4 linked regions of the Homo sapiens genome follow. The protein of the gene in region 4 purifies or fractionates together with the protein of the main gene of each other region. This does not show direct contact. Each region holds a gene or a part of one and is shown on either strand. Other genes may lie near its edges.

The links.
Region 1: the proteins of ZFP1 (region 4) and PTS purify together in Homo sapiens (affinity purification with mass spectrometry; one large-scale study listed by BioGRID and IntAct). This does not show direct contact.
Region 2: the proteins of ZFP1 (region 4) and IPO7 purify together in Homo sapiens (co-immunoprecipitation; one large-scale study listed by IntAct). This does not show direct contact.
Region 3: the proteins of ZFP1 (region 4) and NPAT purify together in Homo sapiens (affinity purification with mass spectrometry; one large-scale study listed by BioGRID and IntAct). This does not show direct contact.

Annotation. Positions count from the first base shown.
Region 1 is NC_000011.10:112,229,027-112,232,026, reverse strand, and holds part of PTS (6-pyruvoyl tetrahydrobiopterin synthase), read right to left. Parts: intron 1,820-3,000; coding exon 1,797-1,819; intron 1,402-1,796; coding exon 1,345-1,401; intron 1-1,344. UniProt on the Homo sapiens protein: Involved in the biosynthesis of tetrahydrobiopterin, an essential cofactor of aromatic amino acid hydroxylases. Catalyzes the transformation of 7,8-dihydroneopterin triphosphate into 6-pyruvoyl tetrahydropterin.
Region 2 is NC_000011.10:9,436,251-9,440,227, forward strand, and holds part of IPO7 (importin-7), read left to right. Parts: intron 1-20; coding exon 21-116; intron 117-1,503; coding exon 1,504-1,724; intron 1,725-1,829; coding exon 1,830-2,035; intron 2,036-3,977. UniProt on the Homo sapiens protein: Functions in nuclear protein import, either by acting as autonomous nuclear transport receptor or as an adapter-like protein in association with the importin-beta subunit KPNB1.
Region 3 is NC_000011.10:108,212,563-108,216,539, reverse strand, and holds part of NPAT (protein NPAT), read left to right. Parts: intron 1-3,977. UniProt on the Homo sapiens protein: Required for progression through the G1 and S phases of the cell cycle and for S phase entry. Activates transcription of the histone H2A, histone H2B, histone H3 and histone H4 genes in conjunction with MIZF.
Region 4 is NC_000016.10:75,154,640-75,158,931, reverse strand, and holds part of ZFP1 (zinc finger protein 1 homolog), read right to left. Parts: intron 1,796-4,292; exon of another isoform or gene 1,721-1,795; intron 1-1,720. UniProt on the Homo sapiens protein: May be involved in transcriptional regulation.

The DNA.
Region 1 (3,000 bases), on a different chromosome or scaffold from region 4:
TTAGTCATATGTTGAGGCCTTTTATGTTGCTGTCTTGTCTCTTTTCTTTCTTTTCTTTTCTTTTCTCTTTTTCTTTTTCTTTCTTTCCCCTCCCCTCTCCTCCCCTGTCCTCCCCTCCCCCTCCTCTTCTCCTGTCTCTGTCTCCCTCTCTCTCTCTCTCCGCCTGCCCCCCAACCCCTGCCCCATAAATGCATGCTGGCCCTATCTGTATAACTTTCCTAAAGTATTTTGAGCATAGTGCTGTTTCTTCATTCACTCATTCTTCTACTCATTTATTAAATCAACAGTTATTTAATAATATTCTTCACCTCCTAGAAAAAGTAATGTATACACTCTGTGGGCTACATCTCATTCATCTTTGTACACTTAGCTCAAAAACTGATGCGAAGTAGAGAAATTTGTTGAATATATGAATAAGTAATGTGAAAGAAGTAATCATTACTAATAACATCATTTTAATCAAGCAAATGTCAAATCTCAGAACAAACCTAAGCTGCAAGTGAAATGACAGCATAATAAAACAGCTGGAAGGAAAGAAATCTACTCCCAGCTTTGCAAATGACTAGCCATATGACCTGGGGCAAGTCAGTTAACTGTTCAGCATCTCTCAATCTTAATCTATGGGTTGAAGAAGTTGGTCTGAATAATCTCCAAAGTCTCTTACAGTGCAAGAATTCTATAATGACACAATCAGTTAAGTTCTTCATTGAACACCTTGTGTGTTATCTCTATGAGGTACTGCTCTGGTGAGTTTATAATAAAGCTAGAATGAACAACACAGTGTGGTGTCTAAATCTATGATCAAAGGTACAAGGAATATTCAGAGAGGGAAGAGAAAGCTCCAAGGAGAAGGCCAGGAGCAGTAGCTCATGCCTGTAATTCCAGCACTTTGGGAGGTCAAGGCAGGAGGTGTCTGAGACCAGCCTGAACAACATAGTGAGACCCCTACCTCTACCAAAAAGAAAAGTTTGCATTGGTTCTGTGCCTATTTAAAAAAAAAAAAAAAAAGAAAGACAGTAAGTCTCAAGGAGAAAGCTATGTCTTAAAAGAAATGGAGAATTTGTTAACTGAAGGAAATCAGGATATTCCAACAAGGAATACAAGGTGAGCATGTTATATTTCCTCCCATCGCTGTAACACAACTGTGACTAATTTCCGTTAAGTCACCAAAACACCTTTAGAGGCCATGCGAGCAGTTCTTCCAACTATTCCCCAACACCCACATCCAGTTCTATTCACAAAGTCATGGAACCTTAGGAGATAACTGGTTGGGGAGGTAGATAGGGGGCCACCAAATATTACAGTTAGGGAATAGCACATAATAAGCACCCAACATGCCATTACCTCCATATATTTTTTGAGATCAGCCAGATTCATAACCATTCCCGTAGCAGGGTCAATCTAAAGAATAAACAAAGGTGAATATTACTGTGATAGGCTCTCCATATTAAACGGCTGGCAAATTATTAAAGGCAGTACAATGTGCAGAGACTGTGCCCACATTTGCACATTTGCCTTCATCCCAGAGATAATCATTGACCTCAGCATGGAAGCACCATGTACTTCAAGCATCCTTTTCATTGTATAGCCCTTCTACCTGTCCACATACAGCATATTAAAGACAACACTTTGGTAGAGGAGAGGCCTGGAATGGCGGCAGCTCACCACACACACATATACAAGGGCCAACAATGAAGCAATACTGACTGGAACAGTTTTCAACACAGAATCCACCACACTGGCTGAAAGAGAGCCCAGCAATCTGCAAAAACCACACAAATATTTTCTGCACATACCTCTCCATGTACTGTCACCACAACTATGGAAAGAAAACAAAATACAAAAAAAACAGCATGACTTTCAACAGATCAACATCCAAGCACAAGTTAGCAACATACAAGCACAAGTTGGCAACATAAATTATTAGATCTGTCCCCAAAAGCTATACTTAAATATTTACCCCAAAACATCTGTTATTTTAGTTAAGATTTTTTTTTTAGCAACCAAAGCAAGACACAATCGAGACAAAGGAGCTTAGTAGGAATGTTGGCTAAGCAGAGGCACTCGGCCAAGGCTGAAAAGGGTGTAAATTCTGCTTATGTTAATGCACTAGGGAGCATCAAGATGCTGCTCAGTCTCTGCCTGTAGAAGTAGAAAATGTCTTTCAGGTGTCCAGCTACACAGCAAGCTGGTCCAATACTGAGCAGTACCTTTCTGAACAAGCAATACTACTGGGCCTTAAATTCTTGTCCCCTTACTCACATGAATGTATACAAAGTCTAAAGTAATGCTTTGTAAATTAAAAAGTGCTTGTGAGAAGCATTTGAAAAATCTTGGCCAGGCGTGGTGGCTCAAGCCTGTAATCCCAGCACTTCGGGAGGCCGAGGCGGGCAGATCACCTGAGGTCTGGAGTTTGAGAGCAGCCTGGCCAACATGGTGAAACCCCATCTCTACTAAAAATACAAAAATTAGCCAGGCATAGTGGCGGGCGCCTGTAATCTCAGCTACTCGGGAGGCTGAGGCTGGAGAATCGCTCGAACCTGGGAGGTGGAGGTTGTAGTGACGGGAGATCACACCATTCCAGCCTGGGCAAAAAGAGTGGAACTCCATCTCAAAAAAAAAAACAACAACAACAAAAAAAAACTTTATCAGTGCTTTACACATTAATAACTTTTATGAATTTATGTATTTTAGTTCTGTACAAATACCATTAGATATTACATGTAAGTGAGTACACTGAGACTGAGATACCATAGATTAAGGAAGAGGCTGTAGCTAAACCAGTAATCCTAATCTCCTGACACCTTGTCTGTTTTTTTTTATGCCACCACACCACATACTGTTTTATACTCTACGACTTATGTACCTGTTTTTTAAGGCAGGCTGTACCTCAAAGAATCAAGTCTCTTATCCTTGAACAAATTACCTACTTTCTTCGAACACTGCTGGCAAAGCTTTAGACCAAACCTATTTTTCTGCCATACATTACATTCCTAGGCA
Region 2 (3,977 bases), on a different chromosome or scaffold from region 4:
TTATATTCTGTTTTGATCAGGTTCTTACAGGAGTTGCAGGAGAAGATGCAGAGTGTCATGCAGCAAAATTGTTAGAGGTCATCATTCTGCAGTGCAAAGGGCGTGGCATTGACCAGGTCAGTGAAGCTAATAATGATTTGTAGTTCAGAGGGGTAATCTTTTCCTTCCACTTTCTTTCTTCATTTTTTGGCATTTGTTGCATATTCTGTATGTTTTTGTTTATTGAGACATCTAGACAACTAATATTTTTAGTTCAAAATGTAACTAATATATAATAATGATCATATGTTTAATGTACAGGAATTGGACTAAGTTTTATGGCTACTTTGTTATCATGAAAGGTAAACTTTTGCTTAAGATTTTTTGGATAGCTTTAGTAATTAAATATCCATGGTCAGTTTTTTTGTTTGTTTGTTTTGTTTTGTTTGTTTTTTGTTTTTTGTTTTTTTTGAGTGAGAGTCTTGCTCTGTTGCCCAGACTGGAGTGCAGTGGCACATTCTCTGCTGACTGCAACCAGATTCAAGCAGTTCTCCTGCCTCAGCCTCCCAAGTAGCTGGGATTACAGGTATACACCACCACAACCGCCTGATTTTATATATATATATATATATATATATATTTTTTTTTTTTTTTTTTTTTTTTTTTTTTTTTTTGAGACGCTGTCTCGCCCTGTCGCCTAGGCTGGAGTGCAGTCGCGCAATCTCAGCTCACTGCAACCTCTGCCTCCCAGGTGCAAGCAGTTCTCTGCCTCTGCCTCCTGAGTAGATGGGATTATAGGTGCCTGCCACCACACCTGGCTAATTTTTTATATTTTTAGTAGAGAAGGAGTTTCGCCATTTTGGCCAGGCTGGTCTCAAACTCCTGACCTCAAGTGTTCTGCCCACCTCAGACTCCCAAAAGTGCTGGGATCGCAGGCATGAGCCACGTCACCCGGCCCACGGTCAATTTTAATAGGAACTTGTGAAGCCATGATTGATATCATCGTGAGCTTTTATTTATTTTTTATTTATTTCATATATTTTTTTGAGACAGAGTCTCGCTCTGTCGCTCAGGCTGGAGTGCAGTGGCGCGATCTCAGCTCACTGCCTCTGCCTCCCAGGTTCACGCCATTCTCCTTCCTCAGCCTCCCAAGTAGCTGGGACTACAGGCACCCGCCACCACGCCTGGCTAATTTTTTGTATTTTTAGTAGAGACGGGGTTTCACTGTGTTAGCCAGGATGGTCTTGATCTCCTGACCTCGTGATCCGCCTGCCTCAGCCTCCCAAAGTGCTGGGATTACAGGCGTGAGCCACCACTCCCGGCCCGTCGTGAGCTTTTAATAGCTCCATGAAGACTACTAGACTTTCTCTAAAATTAGATTTCCCAGTGCAGTGCCTCAGCAGTAAATATTGGTCATCTAATGCTACAATAGGGTTAATTGAGGCAACAAAGAAGTTAATATTTTTAGAATGTTTGCATGCTATTAATTATAGTCTTAGAATATCTTGCTATCTTTTTTTGTAGTGCATTCCCTTATTCGTGGAAGCAGCCTTAGAAAGACTGACAAGAGAGGTTAAGACAAGTGAACTTCGAACTATGTGTCTGCAAGTTGCAATTGCAGCTTTGTATTATAATCCACACCTACTACTCAATACCTTAGAAAATCTTCGCTTCCCTAATAATGTTGAACCAGTTACAAATCATTTTATTACACAGTGGCTTAATGATGTTGACTGTTTCTTGGGGTAAGTGATGTATTGCAATTTTACTACATTTGCTTTGGGAGGAACTCTGCTTATTTAAGAAAAGAAAACAGTTTTTTTTTTTTTTTTTTTTTTTTTTTTTTTTAGGCTTCATGACAGAAAGATGTGTGTTCTCGGACTCTGTGCTCTTATTGATATGGAACAGATACCCCAAGTTTTAAATCAGGTTTCTGGACAGATTTTGCCGGCTTTTATCCTTTTATTTAACGGATTGAAAAGAGCATATGCCTGCCATGCAGAACATGAGAATGACAGTGATGATGATGATGAAGCTGAAGATGATGATGAAACCGGTAAGGGATTTTCAATGGAAGAAGACAAAACTTATCTACTTAGAAATATTACCGCACTGGGCCGGGCGCAGTGGCTCAGGCCTGTAATCCCAGCACTTTGGGAGGCTGAGGCAGGTGGATCACACGGTCAGGAGTTCGAGACCAGCCTGGCCAGTATGGTGAAACCCCACCTCTACTAAAAATACAAAAATTAGCTGGGTGTAGTGGTGGGCACTTGTAGTCCCAGCTACTTGGGAGGCTGAGGCAGGAGAATCGCTTGAACCCATGAGGCGGAGGTTGCAGTGAGCCAAGATTGCATCACTGCACTCCAGCCTGGGTAACAGAACGAGACTCCATCTCAGATTAAAAAAAAATATATATATATATCACTAGCCCTTCTCCCAAATAAATGTGGGATCATACCCAAATGCTTTCATTCACAGAAAAGACTTCCTTTCTTCTCACTAGAGTGATGTAATCAGGAACTTCAGCTGTATTACCAACATGTAGAACAGTTCAAACCATTATAGTATGCAACCAACAAAGATTTGTTTATTTTACACATTCTCAGCACTGTAGATACAAAGATGAATGAGATGTCATGCAGTTCTTCAAAAGTTTTCTATCCGACTGTGGGAAAGTATTACAAAGCCAAATAATTATGTATATAATAATAGAGTTGACACGAAGTGCTGAGTCCACTTAAGAGCGAGAGATTATAGTTCCCTTTTTTATATGGTGGCATGAGCCTATAGTCCCAGCTACTTGGAAGTCTGAGGTATCAGATTCGCTTGAGCCCAGGAGTTTGATTCCAGCCTGGGTAACATAGTGAAACCCCAGTTTTTTGTTTTTTGGCTTTTTTTCCTTTGAGACGGAGTTTTGCTCCTGTTGCCCAGGCTGGAGTGCAACAGCGCGATCTTGGCTCACTGCAACATCTGCCTCCCGGGTTCAAGCAATTCTCCTGCCTCAGCCCCCCAGATAGCTGGGATTATAGGCACGTGCCACCATGCCCAGCTTATTTTTGTATTTTTAGTAGAGACAGGATTTCACCATGTTGGCCAGGCTGGTCTGGAACTCCTGACCTCAGATGATCCACCCTCCTGGGCCTCCCAAAGTGCTGGGATTACAGGCGTGAGCCACTGCACTGAGCCGTGAAACCCCATTTCTTTAAAAAAAGTTGTGGGGATTACATGAGGGAATCCTTGACGCTTAAATAGTGCTTGGCAGATGGCACTGAATTAACAGTATTAACAAAGGTACACATATCATTATAGTTACTATTACAAGATTTATGGGGGTTTTTTTTGTTTGTTTTTTTTTGTTGTTGTTGTTGAGACGGAATCTCGTTCTGTCGCCAAGCTGGAGTGCAATGGCAATCTTGGCTCACTGCAACCTCCGACTCCCGGGTTCAAGCGATTCTCCTGCCTCAGCCTCCCAAGTAGCTGGGATTACAGGCGTGTGCCACCACACCGGCTAATTTTTGTATTTTTAGTAGAGATGGGGTTTCACCGTGTTGGCCAGGGTGGTCTCAATCTCCTGACCTCATGATCTGCCTGCCTTGGCCTCCTAAAGTGTTGGGATTACAGGCGTGAGCCACCGCGCCCGGCGAATTATGGGGTTTTCATTTTATTTTTAAGCTTCTAAAGATTTATGGTCTTAATGTTGACTAAATTTATTGGAGACATCCATCCTATCATCTATTAATTCTAAAACCTAAGCATACTTGCACTATAACATTATGTTAATTAAATGTTGATAAATACATTTTATCTATAAGACTGTACACTATCAGTGTATAAATTGATAAAATATTAAGAGAAATTATTATAAGGGTTTCAACATAAGATAGCTATTGCTATTTTTGTCTTTTATCATTTACTAACTTAGCCAGCCTTTTAAAAAAAATCTTACAAAAGGTTTGGTGGGTGTAACGGTAGTGTGTTCATACTGCGCAGTTCTTTTT
Region 3 (3,977 bases), on a different chromosome or scaffold from region 4:
CTTCTTAGGCTTTTTTTTTTTCCCTGACCCTCCTCTCCTCCCCACACGAAAGTTTAATGTTTTAGTGTCATGAATATATTGTATATGTTTATATATCATGTGTATCTGTGATTTATGCATAAAAAGAGGGAGATTTTCTTCATTCCTCCCTGCCCCAGAACCAATTTTCAGCCTCTTAGGGCAGTATGACTCCTTTTGAGAATGCATGGTCTAGGGGAAAGCAAATCTACTTTAAGATAGATAAAAATCTACTGCAAATCTATAGTAGATTTTAATACCACCGTCTATCAGAAGTCCCCAAGTGACTGAAGGCATCTAGGGTGATAAGTACTTGAAACTCCACCATGAAAAGGAAGTATATTTGAGGTGTTCAATCTAAATCTTGAAGCATATGAGGAAAAAGCTCCAACTGTCCTAATTTTAAGGTGATTCTAATAGTCTGTAGAAGTTTTAAATTTTTGTGTTTACAAAAAGCTAGTAACAGCTAACTCACCTATTCCAAATATTATAACGGTCGGAAAGCCAGCCATCATAAAAATTACTTTTCAGCCAGCTAGTTTTCACAAAAAGAGAAGAAAACATTGCAGTGTATCTTTGATCTAATTAATTTCACATCTGTGGTTTGATGTTCAATGATAGGAAGATTGAAGTCATGTTATCTGAGATAAAGCTTTCTTCAGATATCCAAATGCTTTCTCCAAAACACAATGCCTTTGGTTTTTGATTTGTATATTTGTTTGTTTCTTCTTATTAGTTAGCAAGAGGTTGGAAAACAGATTCATCAACAAGTAGAGAGTGGTGAGTTGATTCCCAAATCACAGCTAGGGCATTGCCTGTAACGAGATGACCATATCCTTGCCCTTTCCTTTTTAAAACCTTAGTGTATAATGACTTTGTAGGCAACCTTATTAGGTTTTTCACCTGTTGGACCTGGTTAACGATACAGTTCCAGGTGAAGAGAGTAGAACGTTATAAAGTTGGAAGAGACGTTAGACATAATTTCTTTTTTTTATCTTTTAAATTCAGGGGTACATGTGCAGGTTTGTTATATAGGTAAACTTGTGTCATAGGGGTTTGTTGTACGTATTATTTCATCACCCAGGTGTTAAGCCTAGAACCCATTAGTTATTTTTCCTGATCCTCTACCTCCTCCCACCCTTCACCTCCAATAGGCCCCAGTGTGTGTTGTTCCCTTTATGTGCCCGTGTGTTCTCATCCTTTAGCTCCCACTTATAATTTCAGTAGCTAACAAATACTTACTGACTATTATGCCAGCACTGAGATAAGTGTACTTCAAAGGAAAATATAAGGGAATACTTATAAGTATTAAGTAATACCTATAAGGGAATATTTAATAGTAGGGAATAGGGAGTAATTATACTAAACTGTGAAGAATGAGTTGAAGATAGCTAGGTTAAGAAAAGATTAGCTGCCCAAGCAAAGGAAATAGAATAAACAATGGCCTTGAAATATAATCAATGTGTATCTGTGGGACTGAAAGACCAGTTTGGCTGGAAGCGATGGAATGGTAAAACATAGGCTGAAGAGGAAATTAGGGTACAAAGCAAGTAGAACCTCATACGACACATTAAAAATTTGAAATCATAGGCCGGGTGCAGTGGCTCACGCGTGTAATCCCAGCACTTTGGGAGGCCGAGGCGGGCAAATCACCTGAGGTCAGGAGTTCCAGACCAGCCTGGCCAACATGGCAAAACCCCATCTCTACTAAAAATATAAAAATTAGCCAGGCATGGTGGCAGGCGTCTGTAATCCCAGCTACTTGGGAGGCTGAGGCAGGAGAATCGCTTGAACCTGGGAGGCAGAGGTTGCAGTGAGCCGAGATTGCATCATTGCACTCCAGCACAGGTGACAAGAGCGGGACTCCATCTCAAAAAAAAAAAAAAAAAATTGGAATCATATTTTTTTATTGAGATATGATGCACATACTACAAAATGTAAACTTCGTTGTTTTTCAGGGTATGAAAATCCAGGATATTTATGGATTCATAATGTGCAGATATCACCAGTAATTTCAATATTTCCATCACTCCAAAGAGAATCCTTATACTATTAAGTCACTTCCAATTCCCCCTTGCCCCGTCCTCTGCCAACCACAAATCTACTTTCTGTATCTATACATGTGCCTTGCCTGGACATTGCACATAAATGAAATAGAATATTTCGCTTTTTGTGTCTGACTTTCACATAGCATAATGTTTTCAGCCTTATTCCATGTTGTAGCAGGTATTAGTACTTCATTCCTTTTTATAGCTGAATATTTCATTATATGAATATGCCATATTTTGTTTGTCCATTCATTAATGGACACTGTTATGAAAAATGCAGGCCAGCTGTAATGGCTCACCCTGTAATCCCAACACTTTGGGAGGCCAAGGCAGGAGGATTGCTTGAAGCCAGGGGAGCGAGACCAGCCTGGGCAGCATACTGAGACACCCCATCTGTACCAATAAGTAAGTAATTAGCTGGGCATTTATTTGGTGGTACATGCCTCTAGTCCTAGCTACTGGGTTGGCTGAAGTGGGAGGATCACTTCAGCCCAGGAGTTCAAGGTTATAGTGAGCTATGATTGAGCCACTCTACTTCAGCCTGGGTGACAGAGCAAGACTCTGTCTCTGAAAAAAAATAAACTGACCATAAATGTCTGGATTCCATGCTTCAGAGTTGACTAGATAAATAAGAAAGGTCTGGATTTTTTATTTTGTTCCACTAATTTCTGTGTCTAACCTCATGCCCGTACATCGTCTGGATTACTGTAGCTTTACAGTAAGTTTTGAAATTGGTAAGTGTAAGTGCTTCAACTTTTTCTTCATTTTCAAGATTATTTTGGCTATTCCAGCCCCCTTGTATTACCTTAGGAGTTTTAGGATGTTTGTCAATTTCTGCACAAAAGGCAGTTGAGATTATGATAGGAATTGTGTTGAATGTATCGGTGAATTTTGGGAGTATTGAGTTTTTAACAATATTGAACCTTTCAGTCCATGAACACAGTATGTCTTTGCGTGGATTTAGGTCTTTAATTTCCTCCAGTGACGTTTTCCAGTTTTTAGTATGCAAGTCCTTTACTTTTGTTAAACTTATTCCTAAGTATTTTATTTCTTTTGATGCTATTGTAACTAGCATTGCATTCTTAATTTTTGGTAGTTCATTGAGATTTATTGACTTTTATATATTCACTGTGTATCCTGCAACCTTGTCGAAGTCATTTATTAGCTCTAATAGTTTTTGTTTTGTTTCGTTTTGTTTTTGGGACAGAGTTTCGCTCTTGTTGCCCAGGCTGGAGTGCAATGGCGCAATCTTGGCTCACCACAACCTCTGCCTCCCGGGTTCAAGCGATTCTCCTGCCTCAGCCTCTGGAATAGCTGGGATTACAGGCATGCATCACCTTGCCCAGCTAACTTTGTATTTTTAGTAGCACCAGGGTTTCTCCATGTTGGTCAGGCTGGTCTCGAACTCCCGACCTCAGGTGATTTGCTGGCCTTGGCCTCCCAAAGTGCTGGATTATAGGCATGAGCCACCATGCCCCGCCCAGGGAGGTTTCTTAACTCCTTTTTTTTTTTTTTTTTTTTTTTTTTTGAGACAGAGTCTTGCTCTGTTGCCCAGGCTGGAGTGCAATGGCACCATCTCGGCTCATTGCAACCTCCACCTCCCTGGTTCAAGTGATTCCCCTGCCTCAGCCTCCCTAGCAGCTGGGATTAAGGTGGACACCACCATGCCTGGCTCATTTTTTTGTATTTTTAGTAGAGACGGGGTTTCACCATGTTGGCCAGACTGGTCTCGAACTCCTGACCTCAGGCAATCTGCCTGCCTTGGCCTCCCAGAGTGCTGGGATTATAGGTATGAGCCGTGGTGCCTGGCCTCTAATAGTTTTTTTGTTGTTGTTGTTGTTGTTTTTTATGGCTTCCTTAGGATTTTCTATATAAGACATGTCATCTGCAAATAGGGGTAATCTTGATTTT
Region 4 (4,292 bases):
CTCTGTCTCAAAAAAAAAAAAAAAAAGACAAGACAAAAACAATCAAGAGATAAACAACCCAAAAGGAGCAGATGTAGACAGTACCTATATATTAGTTTTAACCCATAAACACTTCAGACGAACTGTAAAGTAATATGCAAAATATTAAAGAGGTGGTCAGTTAAGATTATAAGCTGTAATCTCTACAGCAACCACTTAAAAAAAAGATAAAAGGGAAAATAGGAACACACAGGACAACTAAAAATAAATAGCAAAATGACACACTGAAATTCACCTATGCCTGTAAAAAAAAAAAAAAAATCACAAATAAAATAATAAACCAATTAAAAGACAGAAATAGGCCAGGCATGGTGGCTCACGCCTATAATCCCAGCCCTTTGGGAGGCAAGATCTCATCACGACAAAAAAAATAAAAAAAATTAAAATTAAAATTAACTGTCACAGGCCTGTAGTCCCAGCTACTCAGGAGGCTGACGTGGGAGAACTGCTTGAGGCTGCAATGAGCCAAGATCACACCACTTCACTCCAGCACTGCAGCCTGGGTGAGAAAGAGAGATCCTGTCTCAAAAAATAAAAAAAATTAAAAAAAAAAAAAAATAGACAGAAATAGGCTGGATCAAGGAACTTGAGGCTGCAGTGAGCTGTGTTCATGCCACTAAATTCCACCCTGGGCAACAGAGGAAGACCCTGTCTCAAAAAAAGAAAAAAGAAACAGGCTGGATCAAAACCACGACCAAACTACAAGCTATTTAGGGGAAATATACTATAAACATATGAACATAAATAGGTTGAAGCAAAAATAAAATATATACCATAACACTAATCATAAAAAAAAGGAGGTATGGGCCAGGCATGGTGGTTCACATTTGTAATCCCAGAACTTTGGGAGGCTGAGGTAGACAGATCTCGTAAGCCTAGGGGTTTGAGACCAGCCTGGGCAACCTGGCGAGATCCCATCTCTACCAAAAACAAAACTACAAAAATTGCCTGAGCATGGTGGTACACGCCTGTAGTTCCAAATACTGGGAGGATCACTTGAACTCAGGAGGCAAAGACTGCAGTGAGTGAAGATCAAGCCACTGCACTCCAGCCTGGGTAACAGAGCCAGATCCGGTCTCAAAACAAACCAACCAACCAACCCAGAAGAGGTAGGTATGGCTTTATTTTTATCAGAAAAGCAGTATTATCAGGGATAAAGAGGGGCATTTCAAAATGATAAAAGGATAAGTCCATCAGGAAGACAGAATCATATGTGTGCACACATCCATAACCATATATGCAATGACTAACACAGCTTCAAATTATATCAAGCCTGACAGAACTAAACTGAGGAATGGACAAATCCACATTCATACCTAGCTATCAATCAAATACCAGAACAGAATGAAGGCCAGGTGCAGTGGCTCTCACCTGTAATCCTAGCATTTTGGGAGGCTGAGGAGGGCGTATCACTTGAGGCCAGGAGTTCAAGACCAGCCTGGCCAACAGGGTGAAATCCCGTCTCTACTAAAAATACAAAAATTCACCGTGTGTAGTGGCACACACCTGTAATCACAGCTACTTAGGAGGCTGAGGCGGGAGAATTGCTTGAACCCTGTGGTAGAGATTGCAGTGAGCCAAGATCACACCACTGCACCCCAGCCTGGGAGACAGAGTGAGACTGTCTCAAAAAAAAAAAAAAAAAAAAGACATTTTCAGAAATTCAGCCTAAAAAACATACCTCTCACAAACCCTTTCTCAAGAAGCTGCTGAAGCATGTACTTCAATAAAACAACAGTAATCCAAAAAAGAGACGCTGCAAACAAAAGATCAACATGAGAGAGAGGAAGGAAATCCCTAGGAGTGGGAAGGAGACAGCGGTGGGAGATGGTGAAATAGCACTGATTCTCTACTAACACCACATTACTTGTAGTTACGGACTGGAACACAGTGATTCAAAAGCTGGCATTCTGAGGGTTGTCATCAACAAGATACCTGCGGCCACTGTACCAACTTTTTATTAACCTGAGGGCAGAATGCCTGGGTGAGCCTGGCCCAGATTCTTAACTGTACTTGGTTTGGCTTATCTTGAACATGTTCTGATGACATCTGTCTTTCCCCTCCATACCAGACTGCCTTGGATCAGATGAGAACAGTCATTTCATGTCACAGAAGTGTTCTGCTTTAATCTACTCCTGAGTGGTGGCTATTCACCAGTGAACCAAGATGCAGAAAATGCATAGCATCCCACTCCCTCTAATTATATTCGTACCAAAAATTCAATACCTAGTCTACACTCTGACCCTGTCACACGGCCCAACTATGTTGAGCCCCATGCTTCTCATGACCTTGCCAATAACCTCCCCAAACGGGACTTCTGTAAACTCTCAGGAAAGTCAAAGCCAGGCTATACCTGGAAATTCAATTCAGCTCATCTTTTCCTGGGAGGCTTTGTCCAACAGTAGCAAAATTTCTTTTCTTTTCTTTTCTTTTTCTGAGACAGAGTCTTACTCTGTTGCCCAGGCTGGAGTGCAGTAGCATGATCTCGGCTCACTGCAGCCTCCACCTCCTGGGTTCAAGCGATTCTCCTGCCTTAGCCTCCGAAGTAGCTGGGATTACAGGCGCATGCTACCACGCCCGGCTAATTTTTTTTGTATTTTTAGTAAAGACAGGGTTTCGCCATGTTGGCCAGGCTGGTCTCGATCTCCTGACCTCAAGTGATCCACCAACCTCGGCCTCCCAAAGTGCTAGGATTACCGGCGTGACCCACCACACCTGGCCCCAACAGTAGCCAAATTTCTAGACACAGCTGCTTTACACTGCTAAATTTGCTTGGTGTTGCCACATTGCTCCCAGTAAGGCTGTATCATTCTATACTATCTCCAGCAATACATGAGTGGTTTCATTTCTTCTTAGCTAACACTAGCTAGTGTAATTTAAAAAATAAATGATAACCTAAGTCTTGGCAAAGGGCCCACGGATGCATCTTTTAGATCTCACATGTCTGAAAGGAAAAAAAAACCTCCACCAATTAGACAAAAGATTATGCAAACCAAGGCAATATTAATTCCAGTTATAGTTTGTTAACTAAATTTTATATTAAGACTATAAGTGATATTAATCCCAGTTATAGTTTATCAACTGAATATTACATTAAGAATATATCTAAGTGGTAAAGTCTTTAAGGAAAGCAAGGGAACTATTAAGAAAAATGTCAAGATAGTGGCTATCTACTAGGTGGATTCAATCAGAAAATTTGTCATAAAGAACAGATAATGTTCTATTTCTTAACTTGGGTGCCTACATGGGCACCCATTTTATTATTATTCTTTAATGCATATATATTTGTTATATATGTTGTTATAACACATTTAAAGAGTGTTATGTCTTAATACACTATTCTGTACATGTGTCACACAATTAAAGATTAGGAAAAAAAAGAATGAGCAACCTCTATGCTCTGATATGGAAATACTTCAAAGATATGTTACTGAATGATTTAAAAAACACATAATTGGGCTGAGCACGGTGGCTCACACCTGTAATGCCAGCACTTTAGGAGACTGAGGTGGACATGGATTGCTTGAGCTCAGGAGTTCAAGATGAGCCTGAGCGACAGGGCAAAACTCCATCTCTACAAAAAAATACAAAAAATTAGGTAAGCATGGCGGCATGTGCCTGTAGTCCCAGCTACTTGCGGGGATTTAGGCAGGAGGACTGCTTGAGTCCAGCAAGTCGAGGCTGCAGTAAACCGTGTTCACATCACTGCACTCCCACTTAGGTGACAGAGCGAGACCCTGTCTCAAAAACAAAACAAAATCAAATCACATAATTAAGAGATTGAAACACAAACCATAACCAGGCACAGTGACTTACGCTTGTAATCAGCATTTTGGGAGGCCAAGGTGGGTGGATCACTTGAGCCCAGGAGTTCGAGACCAGCCTGACCAACATGGTGAAACCCCATCTCTACTAAAAATACAAAAATTAGCTGGGCTATGGTGGTGCGCACCTGTAATCCCAGCTACTCGGGAGGCTGAGGCAGGAGAATCACTTGAACCTGGGAAGGGGAGGTTGCACTGAGCCAAGATCACGCCACTACATTCCAGCCTGTGTGACAGAGCAAGACTCCATCTCAAAAAAAATAAAAATTAAAAACATAAATAAATAAAATGGCTAAAATCCAGAACACTGACAACACAAAATGCTGGTGAGGATGCAGGGCCGTAGAAACTCTCATTCAGGAGGTTCCCTCTCTCGGCTTTGGAGCCCCCCTCCCTCTGTCTCTGTCAGGGGAGCCTCTTCCTTCTGCC